Regions from separate parts of the Homo sapiens genome. Here region 2 is linked to region 1. The links come from fine-mapping of genetic effects on gene expression. Tissue or cell type: whole blood. Region 1 holds a variant in brackets; the other region holds the start of a gene. All regions are shown on one strand. Distances are from middle to middle.

Evidence for each region. PIP is the estimated chance that this variant, and not a neighbour inherited with it, causes the effect.
Region 2: CYB5R4 starts here. The variant in region 1 is fine-mapped to the expression of CYB5R4 in whole blood (INTERVAL, PIP above 0.99). The same link has a PIP of 0.9 or more in blood mononuclear cells.

Annotation. Positions count from the first base shown.
Region 1 is chr6:83,763,391-83,771,014 of GRCh38, reverse strand. No RefSeq gene overlaps it. Among named protein-coding and RNA genes, the nearest start is that of SNAP91, 58 kb to the right of the region's middle. The variant G/A (reference allele first, on the strand shown) is at 3,806.
Region 2 is chr6:83,857,714-83,862,713 of GRCh38, reverse strand. CYB5R4 (cytochrome b5 reductase 4) reads right to left here and starts at 3,025. Exons shown (of 16, transcript NM_016230.4): 1 at 2,857-3,025. The coding sequence starts at 2,931. All of the region lies in intron 3 of RIPPLY2-CYB5R4 (RIPPLY2-CYB5R4 readthrough), which reads right to left. RefSeq lists a silencer at 2,905-2,954.

The sequences.
Region 1 (7,624 bases):
TCCAAGAAAGTCTTTCCATGACACCTATCACACAGAATTAATGAATTTGTGCCAGCATCTAACACTTTATCATACATTTTTATGTTATGATAAATGTATTAAATATCTAACAAGCAATTATGATAAATGCCTATACATGTATTAAAATATTAGCCATACTTCCCACTACAAGAAAAAATATGACTTCATTTTTTTCAATTTTTTGGCATCTCATCCAAGTATATAAATTTTTGTTTACCAATAAGTAGCTCAGAATATTTTGAACACCCTTATAAGACATTCTTTCAAGGTATTCCTTTTGAGAAATCCAAAAAAGAGCAAAACAGAGTTCTATTTCTTGGCATTATAAATCCTCATGTCCATTTTGCATAATAAATTATTAAGTTTCAACCAAACAAGCAACCAATAAAACAATTGTTCAGATACATAACTAGAAACAAAATAATTTTTGTCTCTCATTTATTTTGCAACTTTTTTTGATAGCATTGATATTTAATTCATGCATATTTTTAAAAACATTTATTAATCAATTTCTTAAGATCAAAAATATATCTTTGACCGAATTTTTTTTTGTTACTGAAGTTTTGTTTTTGTGAACTGTGTTTGGGGTTCAATAAGATATTTAACATTTTTAACTTTCTTAATTAATTTCTTTATGTTAGCACCAGGGATTTATGGTGTTTCTTCAGACCTCTGTTTATTTGTGCATAATTCACAATGACAATGCTATGGAGCAGTGAGTGACCAAGGTGGGCCCATAGGCATGGAGAAATTATGGATGTCAAACCCTGGGCAGACTTCCTCCCTGGTCAGGGCTAGTGGAGAGGGAATGGGTTTCCTTGTTCCTTTCTGGCATGGAGTAAATCCCAAGCAAACAGAAGCCTAGGGGAAAAGGGAAGTTGGTGGTCTAGAACCAGCCTTATTTGCTCTTTTCTTTCCCTCTTCTCTTCCTCTCTCCCTTTCTCTCTTCTCTTGCTATTTCAGTTTAGACTCCTTTACATACTCAGAACAGAAATTTGCTCATATTAGTTCCCATAATGATTTAATGTTAAAATCCAGAGATTTTACCTCAGTATGGTGGCATGTGCCTGTGGTCTCAGCTACTCAGGAGGCTGAGGCTGGAGAATTGCTTGAGCCATGGAGTTGCAGGTTGCAGTGAGCTGAGATCAGGCCACTGCACTCCAGCCTGGGCGACAGAGTGAGACCCTGACTCAAAAAGAAGAAGAAGGGAAAAAAAAAAAAAAAAGGCCAGCTGCAGTGGCTCAAATCTGTAATAGAAGCACTTTGAGAGGCTGAGGCAGGCAGATCCCTTGAGTCCAGGAGACCAGCCTGGGCAACATGGCAAAACTCCACCTCTACAAAAAATTCAAAACTTAGCTGGGTGTGGTGGCGTGTGTCTGTAGTCCCAGCTAGTTAGCAGGCTGAAGCAGGAGGATCACTCCAGCCTGTGAGGTCAAGGCTGCAGTGAGCCAAGATGGCTCACTGCACTCCAGCCTGGGTGACAAAGTGAGACACTGTCAAAAAAAAAAAATCACCCCCCAAAACAAAACAGATTTTGCAGGAACCCACCCAAGAAAAAGTGTTAGGAACAACAGAAGATTCTCTCTCTCTCTCTCTCTCTCTCTCTCTCTCTGTCTCTCATATGACCTTTCTCTCATGACATCTTTGTTTTTCTGTGTGCATTTGCTCAATTCGCATCTATTAACTAACTTCTTCTTCCTATAATTTCCATTTCCACCATGCCTCTATATCCTGACTCTACATCATACCTTCAACTCCAGTTGTCTTTTCTAATTCACTCAGTTTCTCATTCCCCAACTCCAAAATACCAATAAATAAATCTGATTGGCTCAGCTGGTCTTTTCAAGCCAGGCCATTGATGGTCCTAATCCACTCAGGCTGAGGGATAGGATCACATGGATACAGAAAGGGCTATGAGCAGGGCAGGCAATGATCAATATCTCAGTATAGTCTTCTATTTTTCTCTCATTTCTTTTTTCAAATAGCTACTGAATACCCACCACGTACCCATTACTATTCTAGCCTCAGTCTCTACTTTCAAGAAGCTAATCATCCAGGAGAGGAAAGGAAGATGGGGATTCCAGAGAGACTTCTCAGGTAAGATGATGCCTGAACAATGTCTAAAAGAATAAGTAAGAGTCACCTCAGTGATGGGAGTAGGAGGTTGGCAAAGATGAAGAGGAAGAACACAGAGGATTCCTGGCAGATGGAGCCATTTGTAGAAAGGAACAGAGGTTAGAAATTCACTGTAAATCCCTGGGACTGCAGGTGGTTCAGCAATGCTAGGGGCCTGGCAAGAAATAGGCTGAAGAGGTAGGTGAGGGAAGATCATAAAGTGTCTTGCAGCCCCCAAGTTTGGAGGACAATGTGACCACTAAATAATTTTCAGTAAGGCAGTAATACAATTGGATTTTTGTTTTATAAAGATCTCTCTGGTAGCAGTGTTGGCAGTGGATTGGACGGGTACTACTGAAGTCTAAGAAATGAATTAGAAGATCACTCTAGGCTTCAAGGTAAGAAATGACGTGAGGATTGGAATTAAGGCATGCCATCGGAATGGAGAAGAGATGGACTTGAGAAGTCCTAAGGAAAGAGAATCAATGCATACAAACTCAAGATGTGAAAGGAAGAGTGACTAGAGGTCTGGTGGCTTTACCCCCTTGAATACTTTCTAAGCCCACCCCCAACACAAGTACTAGTCAAATACCTACTTCTTCTTCCCTATGTCTTACCATTGGTGTGCACAAGCAGATGAGAAGAAGCTGGGAGAGGTTACGGCTTCATTTTTAGCATCTAGGGAGCACTGTTTTACAAACTTGCTAACCCTCCTTACAAAACCTTATCCATTTGTATTCCTCAAATCTGTTTACCGTTGGACCTGTCTTCCAGTCCATTCTTCCAAGCCCTATTTTCCTTCCTTGGCTGCTCTGCTCTTTCACATTCCCTTGACTGATATTGTCCAGAAATCCCTAACATTCACTCACTCGCACATTCAGTCAACATTTGTTAATTTCCTACTATAGACAAAGAGAAGAGAGTGATCAAAGAGCAACCCCTCCATGACACCCAAGCACTTTCTGTAGCTTTGAGGCAGAAGAGCAGGGTAGAAAAATATAACTACAGTGGGATTAGCAAAAAATGAGCCCATCAGCAAGGCTTTAATGAACTCAGTGTGAGCCCAAACTCTGCAAGAATCAGAGAAGGCTCCACACAGATTTATAGATTTCACTGTCTATGGTCAACAGCAAAGGTAGGGACACATGTAACTTGGGCTATTTTCTTTTGGAGGTCCCTCTGGCCCATCTCACCTGCATGATCTCCTAGATGTGCTTTCACTTGCCAGCATGCAAGCAGCAAAACAATAATTTTATTTTAAAATAATTATATTTTAAACAGTAAATATTTAATATTAAACAGTAAATATATATGAAACAGTAAATATTTAAAATAATTAGTGTTTAGGGCTAGAAAAGTGGAATTTAGAGGGTCATTAGCAGTTATCCTCCTGCCTAGAAGTGTAGCTTAATCTCCAGCCTTAATGACTCCCTGCCAACTGATTTGTCTCTAGTATAACTAACCACAAAGGATGAGAAGAGAGAAAGAATTGGAAAGGGATCCTTATTCTGAGTTTTAGCATATACTGGCCTCAAGAGCCACATTCAACACTGGAATTAAGCTACATTCCTCTTTCTCGTCAGGCACTTCATTCACCACAAATGAACAAAATATTTCTGGTTCGTTTCTGGAAAGGAAGTGAAACTGTGAATTCAGGTTACCCAACAGG[G/A]AAGGCACAGTAGGAAGAACAATAGCTGAGCACATCAGTACCAGCTTCATAGAGACCAGCAAGCAAGATGGGGTGGGACAGAGGATCAGTACATCTAATGGTCTGATATAATGCTTCATGGTTTCACAGAAGCGCAGTTGGGAACAATTTAACATGGTTCGTGACAGCCAAGAAACACTTGTTTGTCTGAAAATCCTAGACTGCTGACATCAGGGCCCAGGGGATTCCTATTGGGCTGAGGCAATGCAAAGACTACAAAAAAGGCAAAGCTGTAAATCATGCCCTAGAGGTCAAAACACTTACACAAGGTTACACATGGAATTCTTGCAGCCAACCAAATTGGACTTTCTTTGAAGCTAGGTAAACAATCTTTGTCTTGGCTGCTATGTCACAGCCATATAAGATGGCAAAATACAGCTGCAAAAAGGCTTTCAGCAGTTTCACCTAGTTTACCTTCTATGTCTAACACCCAGTAGACCAGAAGATTCCCCTGACGAGACTGTTTCCTTGGAGCATGATCCTTCGTGTTCTCACACTGTCCTTTCCCCATTTCTTTAGTCAGTTGTATGGGATGCACAAACATTTTACTACCTGTAAAGCACGTGAGTTACAGCCTCATGAGTTTGGAGCGATACATTATTTTTGGCATAAGTCGACAAATGTGATGGCATTTTATGGCAGTTTCATAGGCCCTTTCCTAATTTCTGTGTACTTGCATCTTCCTTGAAAATCAGAACCAATTCTCCCAGCCTCCTTATTAATAGGAAAGCGAAATTTCTTCTCTTTGAGCTACAGGTTCACCCCCATTTCCAGGTCATATTCATTTCATTGCTTAAATCTATTTCAACTGTAACTTTTTGTTACAGTTTAACAATTTGTTAAATTGTTAAACTTTTTAACAACGTTTATCAACTTTGTTCATAAAATTATCACCAATTACATATCCCTGGTTCAGAGGCTCAAAGTTATTTATGTTGTAACTACTTCTTCATGTTTTGAAACCTTCTCTAAAAACTCTCAAGTTTGCTTTCAATTTTTCCAATGATTTTTTTCTAACTCCTAGGATCTCCTCAGTCCCCAGGGAGCTCACACTCCAAGGCCCACATCTAGTTCTAAACAACCCCAAATGAAACATTATAGCATCTTGCATTAGTCTATTCTTACGCTGCTAATAAAGACATACCCTAAACTGGGTAATTTATAAAGAAAAAGAGGTTTAATGGACTCACAGTGTCACATAGCTGGGGAGGCCTCACAATCATGGCAGAAAGCGAAAGAGGAGAAAGGCACATCTTACATGGCCACAGGCAGGATTGCGTGTGCAGGGGAACTCCCCTTTATAAAACCATCAGATCTCTTATTCACTAACAGGAAAACAGTGTGGGAAAGACCCGCCCCCACGATTAAATTACCTCCCACAGGGACAATTCCCATGACATGTAGGAATTATGGGAATGATAATTCAAGCTGAGATTTGGGTGGGGACACAGCCAAACCATATCACACCGCTTCAGACAGACTTTATTGGTCTTATTTTCTGCCCATTTGAATTATTTTACCATCTAGTTTTCATTCGAGTTTTTGTGGGGATTTTGTTGGGAGATGGGTGTTCTTCTGCATGTAGTTAAGCTGTGTTGGCAAGACTGTGGGAGTCAGGGAGGTCAAAGGAGCCGGAATGTAAGTATGGAAGGTCAAAGCTGGGGCGGAGGGAAAAAGTGAGGGAGACAGAGATTGAGTCTCTATAAAATTCCAACCTGCTGCAGTAGCTAATCCTTTCAAAGTCACTTCATATACTGCTAAGTTAATGGAGGCAGTCATTTTTCCCAGACAGTGGTAATATTTGTTACCTGGACAACCTACTCATTTATTCTCTACCCCTCCCCTAAATAGGACTGCAGTCATTTCTGTGTGAAAACAAAACTCACAGTTCAACAGAGCCATACCATTTAGTTTGTTTAATTACAATGCTTATTTTTATAAATACCCAGCAGCACATTTTTAGAAATCTAACAAATAAGCAAATACATCCTTAGATCACAGACACAGCTCTCCTATTTTGTTTGGTACAAAAAGGAAAGAACACTTATCACACCTACACACTATTATTTCCCCATTTCCATCCACTTAAATGCACTTAAATCCACTTAAATGGAGAAATGACACGATTCCTAGTTTTCTAAACCATAACTAGAATTTCCTCTGGGGAATTAGTGTGAATACTCTCAGAAAATCTTTTGCAATGATATTTAATTCCTCTTTTGTACTTTAAAACGACTTCATAACTGATCAAATAAGCAAAAAAAAATTGTGGGGGTGGGGTGGGGGGCATACACAGGCTAGAGAATAACTAGAAGGCTATTCCAGAAACCCACCAAGACTTTGATTTTGGAAACTGACCAGATGGCTTCACTGGTGAATTTTTCTGAATGTTTAAAGAAGGAATAACACTACTCTTACATAAACTCTGTGAGTATGGAGAAACAGGAAACATTTCCAAACTTGTTTATGAGGCCAGCATAATCCAGATTTAAAAAAACTGGCAAAGACATTATAAGAACAGTGAATTATAACCCCATATATCTCATGAACTTAAATGCAAAAAATATTTTTAATAAATTATTAGATATGCATATGGAAAAATGAAACCTGAGCCTTAACTTATGCTAATTCCAAATGGATTGTAGATACATCTAAATATAAATGCTTTGAGAATAATACAGTTTTGAGAAGAAAATATAGAATATTTAATGGCCATGGGGAAGGCAAAGATTTCTTAAGTAAGACACAAAAAACATTAATCATAAACCACAACAAATTACATTTCATTAAATTAGACTTTATTAAAATAATAAATGCTCTTTATCAAGAGACAGTATCAACTAAATGAAAAGTCACAGAGAGGGAAAATAATTTTTTAATAGATATGTTTAACAAAAGACTTGTATCTAAAATATATAAAGAACGACTAAAGCTCAATAAAGAAAAGCAAACTAATTTTTAGAGGGCAAAAACTCTAAACAGGCACTTCATAAAAAACTTTACCTAAAGGTTCAATAAGAACTTTTAGAAAGTGCTCAAGATTGATAGCCAGTAGGAAAGAGCAAACTAAAACCACAATGAAATATCATGACACATCTGCCAGAATGGTTGAAATTTTTTAAAATGATGATACCAAGGGTCAGAAAGGATATGGAGCAACCAGAACTCATACGCTGCTGTTTAGCACTACCTCTTTGGAAAATTGATTGGCAATAGCTATTAAAGATAAATATACAAACCCCTTTGATCCAGCATTTCTACTTCTAGGTACCTACCCTGAAGAAATGAGTATGTATTTATACTATAAGGCAAGATAAGATACCTACCCTGAAGAAATGAGTATGTATTTATACTATAAGACACAGATGAGAATTTTTATAGCAGTATTCTATTCATAGCCCCTAACTAGAAACAACCCAAATGACTACCAACAGGAGAATGGAGAAATTATGACATATTTATACAATGAATGTTTTACAGCAATAATAAAGAATAACTACTAGTATATGCAACAAGGAAAATTTCACAGAAATGATGTTAAACTTAAAAAGCTAGCAGAAAAAAGTACATTTTGTATTATTTTGTTTTATTAAGTTCAAAGAAAGGCAAAAATAACCTATAATGATAGATTTTTTTAAAAAGCTCCCAAATGATTCTAATTTGCATCTAGGTTTGAGAACCACTTATATACAGAGGAGGTAACTGAGGGCCCAGAAGGTGAGGCAATTTGGCCAAGGTCTCTTGATTCCTAGCTGCTGCTGCTGCCATTAGGGAAAAAAG
Region 2 (5,000 bases), 93 kb before region 1:
TCCCTCCTTCAGTGGCTCCTCAGGTCACCTTACAACAACGTCTCTAAATTCCCTAGGGATTTACCAGGTCTTCACAATCTGGTCACAGTTGACTGTACTAGCTCCATGTTCTAACTTTTGCTCCTTTCCATTATATACTTTAGCCAAATGGGAACTGATTATTTGATTCCTTTATTGCTGTCAAGTACTTGCTTATAGTAGTGTTGCTTTCCCTGCATGGATCAACCTCACTCCAACTCCCATTAATTCCTCTGGAAGGCTTCTCTGATCCTCAACTCCTTAGTGGTCATACCACCCTGTTGTAGTACTTATGACTTTATAACTGAATGTTCACTATTTCATGCAACCTATGAGACTAAACACCTTGAAATCAGAGACCAAAAACTCCAGCATATGGTAGGTTCTCAATAAGTATTTGTTTACCAGTATTAATAGAAATAATAACTATCATATGTTGAGTGCATATTCTGTGTCACACTCAAGTCTGTGAGATCTGAATAAAAGCCTCAGGACAAGTAGCATTTACTGGGTGCTTACCAAGGCTGTGCTAAGAGAAACATTATCTCATTGAATCCTATGAACAATCCTATAAAATGGGTACTGTTATTCTCATTTACATCTGAGGAAACAGACTCAAAGAGATTAACTGGCAGATATGGTGAAAGAATCTAGGTCTTTCTCACTTCAAAATCTGTGCCTTTAAAAAATTACAATAAGCCTTCACTTAAGCTAGTCACTAGGTGCTTGGAAACTAAACTATGTACAACGAAACTAATTTTACCGTGGGTTAATTGACAAACAAAATTTCCTGCAGCATATTTCTGGTCACAAAAACATCACCAGACTTCTAAATAAAGACCAAAATACTTCTAATATTAAACACTGAAAGAAATGTTAGCTATATATACATTTAAGAAAGATTAATTAAAAAACAAGTAAGATAATTATTTACCCAACTATTCCAGTTCAATGTCACAGGTAGTCAGAGCCTATCCCAGTAGCTCAGGGCACAAGGCAGGAACCGACCTTGGACAGGATGCCATCCTATGGCAAGGCACACTCATACACACCCAATATTCACACAGACTGGGACCATTTAGACACACCAATTAACCTAACTTGCATATCTTTGGGCTGTAGCAGGAAACCAGAGTACCCAGAGAAAACCCACGCAGACACAGAGCATGCAAACTCCAAAGACAGTGGCCCTGGCCAAAACGAATTTTTTTTCTCATCAATATTATAACTAAATGCTGTTGAATGAAACAACACTATTTGAGAACCTTTTGTATAATACACGACCTTCCCAACTTGGTTCTATTTTCTCAACCTCTACCCATTTCATCCAAACCTGACTCAGTTTTTACATTCTCAGCATCATCTTGTTTCACAAAGAAAAGAGGAAGAAGACTGGAGTCTGACTTTTCCTTAGAATTGCACAATAATCTTATTTTGTTCTCTTTTTGGACCAAAAACTCACCTTTGCCATCGCCCCCTGTGTGACTTTTTGTCTTTGCTTCTAAGTTTTCTCCTTTAAATGGATGCTAAGAACACAGTTGGTATTTTTAACGAAGAAGGGCAGTAACTCATATTCTAATTCAGAGATTCTTTCTGGAAAGACTGTTATTCAGTCAAGTATTTAGCTTCAAGAAATAGGTCAAAAACCAATGAGAAAAATATACATGATTGGATGGCTAGATGATTGATATATGAATCAGTAAATGAAATTTCACAGCAGAACCACAACACAAGCCTACGCAATTTAGGGCAATATTTCTTAGCCAGTTTCCTTTTCTGCGAAATAGAGACAATAAAAGCTTTCACTTCAAAGGATAATTGTGAAAATTAAAGTTAATACATGCAAAGCACTGAGAATATACACGGCCACCCGTAAGTACTTAAGAAATCTCTGGAAAGCTAATGAAAACCACAGATCCCTGAACCTATATTCATTCTGAACTAGAATCAGAACGCCAGGTCTAAGTGGAGAAAAATAAGAAAATCGATAAGGGTTCCAAACGATGCTAAGACTCAAGAGTTAACCGAGTGGCCCAAGTTAAGTGGAAGTGTCACAAACGAAAGATAAAGATATGGTTACAGAATGAGGAACTAACAAATAGGAACAAACAACATTCGCAAAAGAACAAAGAACACAATTTTTATTGAATTCTGCAAATATAAAATATATCTGTACAGTATTCCACCTGTTGCTAACAGCAACTGTGCTCAACAAGAACTCAAGAGTATTATTATATTTGCTTCGAAGTTAGCAAGTGATACTAGTAGAAAAGGCAATGACAAAACAATCAGGTACCAGAGGAAGAAAGAAAGGCAGTATGTCTTGGATAGTGTCTGTAAACCTGACCTAGCTCCCCAACTCCAGAAGTCCCCATCCTTGCACGGACGGTCACTGTCGCCACTGCCAAGCCTTTCCCTCCTGCGAGGGAACCCACATCGAGTGATGTGGTACAACTCCTTCAGGCAGTGAAGAACAAAAGACCAGGGAGAAGATGAGGTTGAGGGAAGGCGGCTAATACCGAGAGCCTATAATACCGCAAACACAGTGCCTGGCTCTGTCATATAAATTTAAATCGCGGGAAAGGACTTGGAGGAAGGGAACGGATAGAGCGGGATAAAGGACCAGAAAGAAGAGGGACTGCTAGGGGAAAGGGAGGAGGTAAGGAGAGTTTAGGGACTGTAGACAAAGTGGGATCAGAAAGAGGTTGCAGGCAAGGACAGCAGGGAACGACAGCTTAGAGAGGGGTGCAGGAGCTGGGAGTTGGGGCGGAAGAAGAGAACACACTGCCAGAGCTCGAAACGCAGCGAGGGGAGAGACTCACGGAGCCACCCGCTTACCTTGCTACGCCCCCCGGAGGCGACACGCTGCTGCGACCTGGGGGCCGGGAAAGACTGGGAAGGGACGTTCAGCATCTTCAAACCCCGGCCCCGGGCCCTGCCCGGGGATCGCCGCCAGACGGGACAGCACCTCCAGCTCCGGCTCTGTGGCCGGGCAGAGGCCAAGCCCCCGACCCACTTCCGGGGTCGCCAGGGGTGAGGCGCATTCTGACGCAGCACGTCCGCGGAGGGCGGAGCCAACGGGACGGAGGGAGGGCCGGCAGGGAGGAAGTACGCATGCTCAGCTAGTTCCGCATCCCGAACTTCAGCACCGGAGCAAGGTGACAGCTATTTCGTGGAAAGATTAGAGAGTGAAGCTGTTCCTTAGCCTTGGTGCTGACCGAATGTGGGAACAAATTCTTAGTCCTGTTAACCCGGAACAGCAATGTCTGTTCATTGTTAAGCAGTACCATCACACTACTTGAAATATGGACTAAAACACACTACTTGAAATATGGACTAAAACGAATTTTAGTTTCTCTGAAATTCTTTCCTGTAAGGCACTAGGCTGTAATGCAAAGAGCATCTCACACCTTTAAGAGCAAAAATATCAAATGTCAACAGCCACTACTGTGGGGTAAGAAGAAAACCTCACCTTTAATCATCCTTAAACTTCACCTTTAAGCATGCTGAGGGCTAATGAATGCGCGAAAGACGTTAGTAAAGTCACCTTCTGCTCTATTCACCCACTCACAAATTCTCCCTCCTTATGTAACTTCCTGTCTTCACTGGGAATTGTGTACTGATGCAGCTCACCTCCAGCTGTGGTGATGAAGTAACGTTTAAAAGTCAGATTTGGTTTGCATGCCATCCCTGCACTTAATGACTGAGCTGTCTTATGCAAGTTACTTTAGTATCTCAAAGTCTCATTTTCCCCATCTGCATAATGGGTTTATTAAAGATTAAAGGATCATGTGTAAACTACATACTGCAGTGCCTGATTAATATTAGGTACTGAATAAGTGGCAGTGGCTGTTTGTGCTATTCCAACATATTAATGGGAAAAGGACCAACACTGTGCAGGTAAACACCAGGCTCTAATGCTCAAAATCTGATGGTTTTTGTTTGTTTGATTGATTGTTTTGTGTGTCCCTTGGGGAACACATAGATCTTGAGAGTAGAATCCAATAAGGGAGAAAGTTTTCAGGAGAAGAAACATAGTTCTAAATAATCCTCCCCATCCTCCTTTAATTACTAATTTTTCCTAACTCTGAACATATTGTCATGCTTTAAACTTTCTCTGTTTAACTACTTAGTTCTTAAAGTGCCTAAAAAATCAAGGTTATGTTTGCAGAATCAGAAGAAAAAGTGTGTGACTATATGTGGCCATTCAAATACAAGCATTCAAATAAGGTAGCCACCTATGACATTCACCTCTATCCATTTTTATTTGCAATTGAAATGCTTATTATGAGAAGACTGAATTTGAGCTAAAAGAACCTCATGACTATAATTAACTGTATTACTTTGACTTTGCAAATTGCTTCTGTGTTCTCTCTCATTAAATGATGACATATTCTTCTAGAGTCTACACAAGAAAAACTAATCACTGAGATTTATTTCACTTCTCGTGAGAAAACTTTTACATAAGAATATCAAAAGCAGAGAACCAGAGCAAGGAAAAGTTAATATTGTTGAAGAATGTTCCATGCTTTCCAAATTTCTTAGCTCCCCTTTGTACAGAAATGGAAGATGCTATCAACTTCTGGCCTTTAGACTCCACTTTTTTAGACTCCATATCAATCACTCAAATTTAAACGTTTTGTTTTAATTCTAGGGATCCCTCAATGTAGTACATTAAGTATTAAACATCCATACTATTTTACTACTGGATTTAAGGACTGAAGAGGAGTATTAAAATATGAGTTACTTTGCTCATCATTTATTTAAAATATCTATAATTTAAAAGCCCTAAGATTGATTCCCTTTTTCAATTACAGGTAATGATTTAATGTGTTTTTCTCCATCTGCTAAGAAATCTTTACTAATAAATGAGTGATTTCTAACATAAGTCTATTTTCTTCATTATCTAATAAGATAACATTGATATGTAACTACAACATCCAACTGGCATCAGTAGGAAATAGCAGATGTTAAAAGATTCA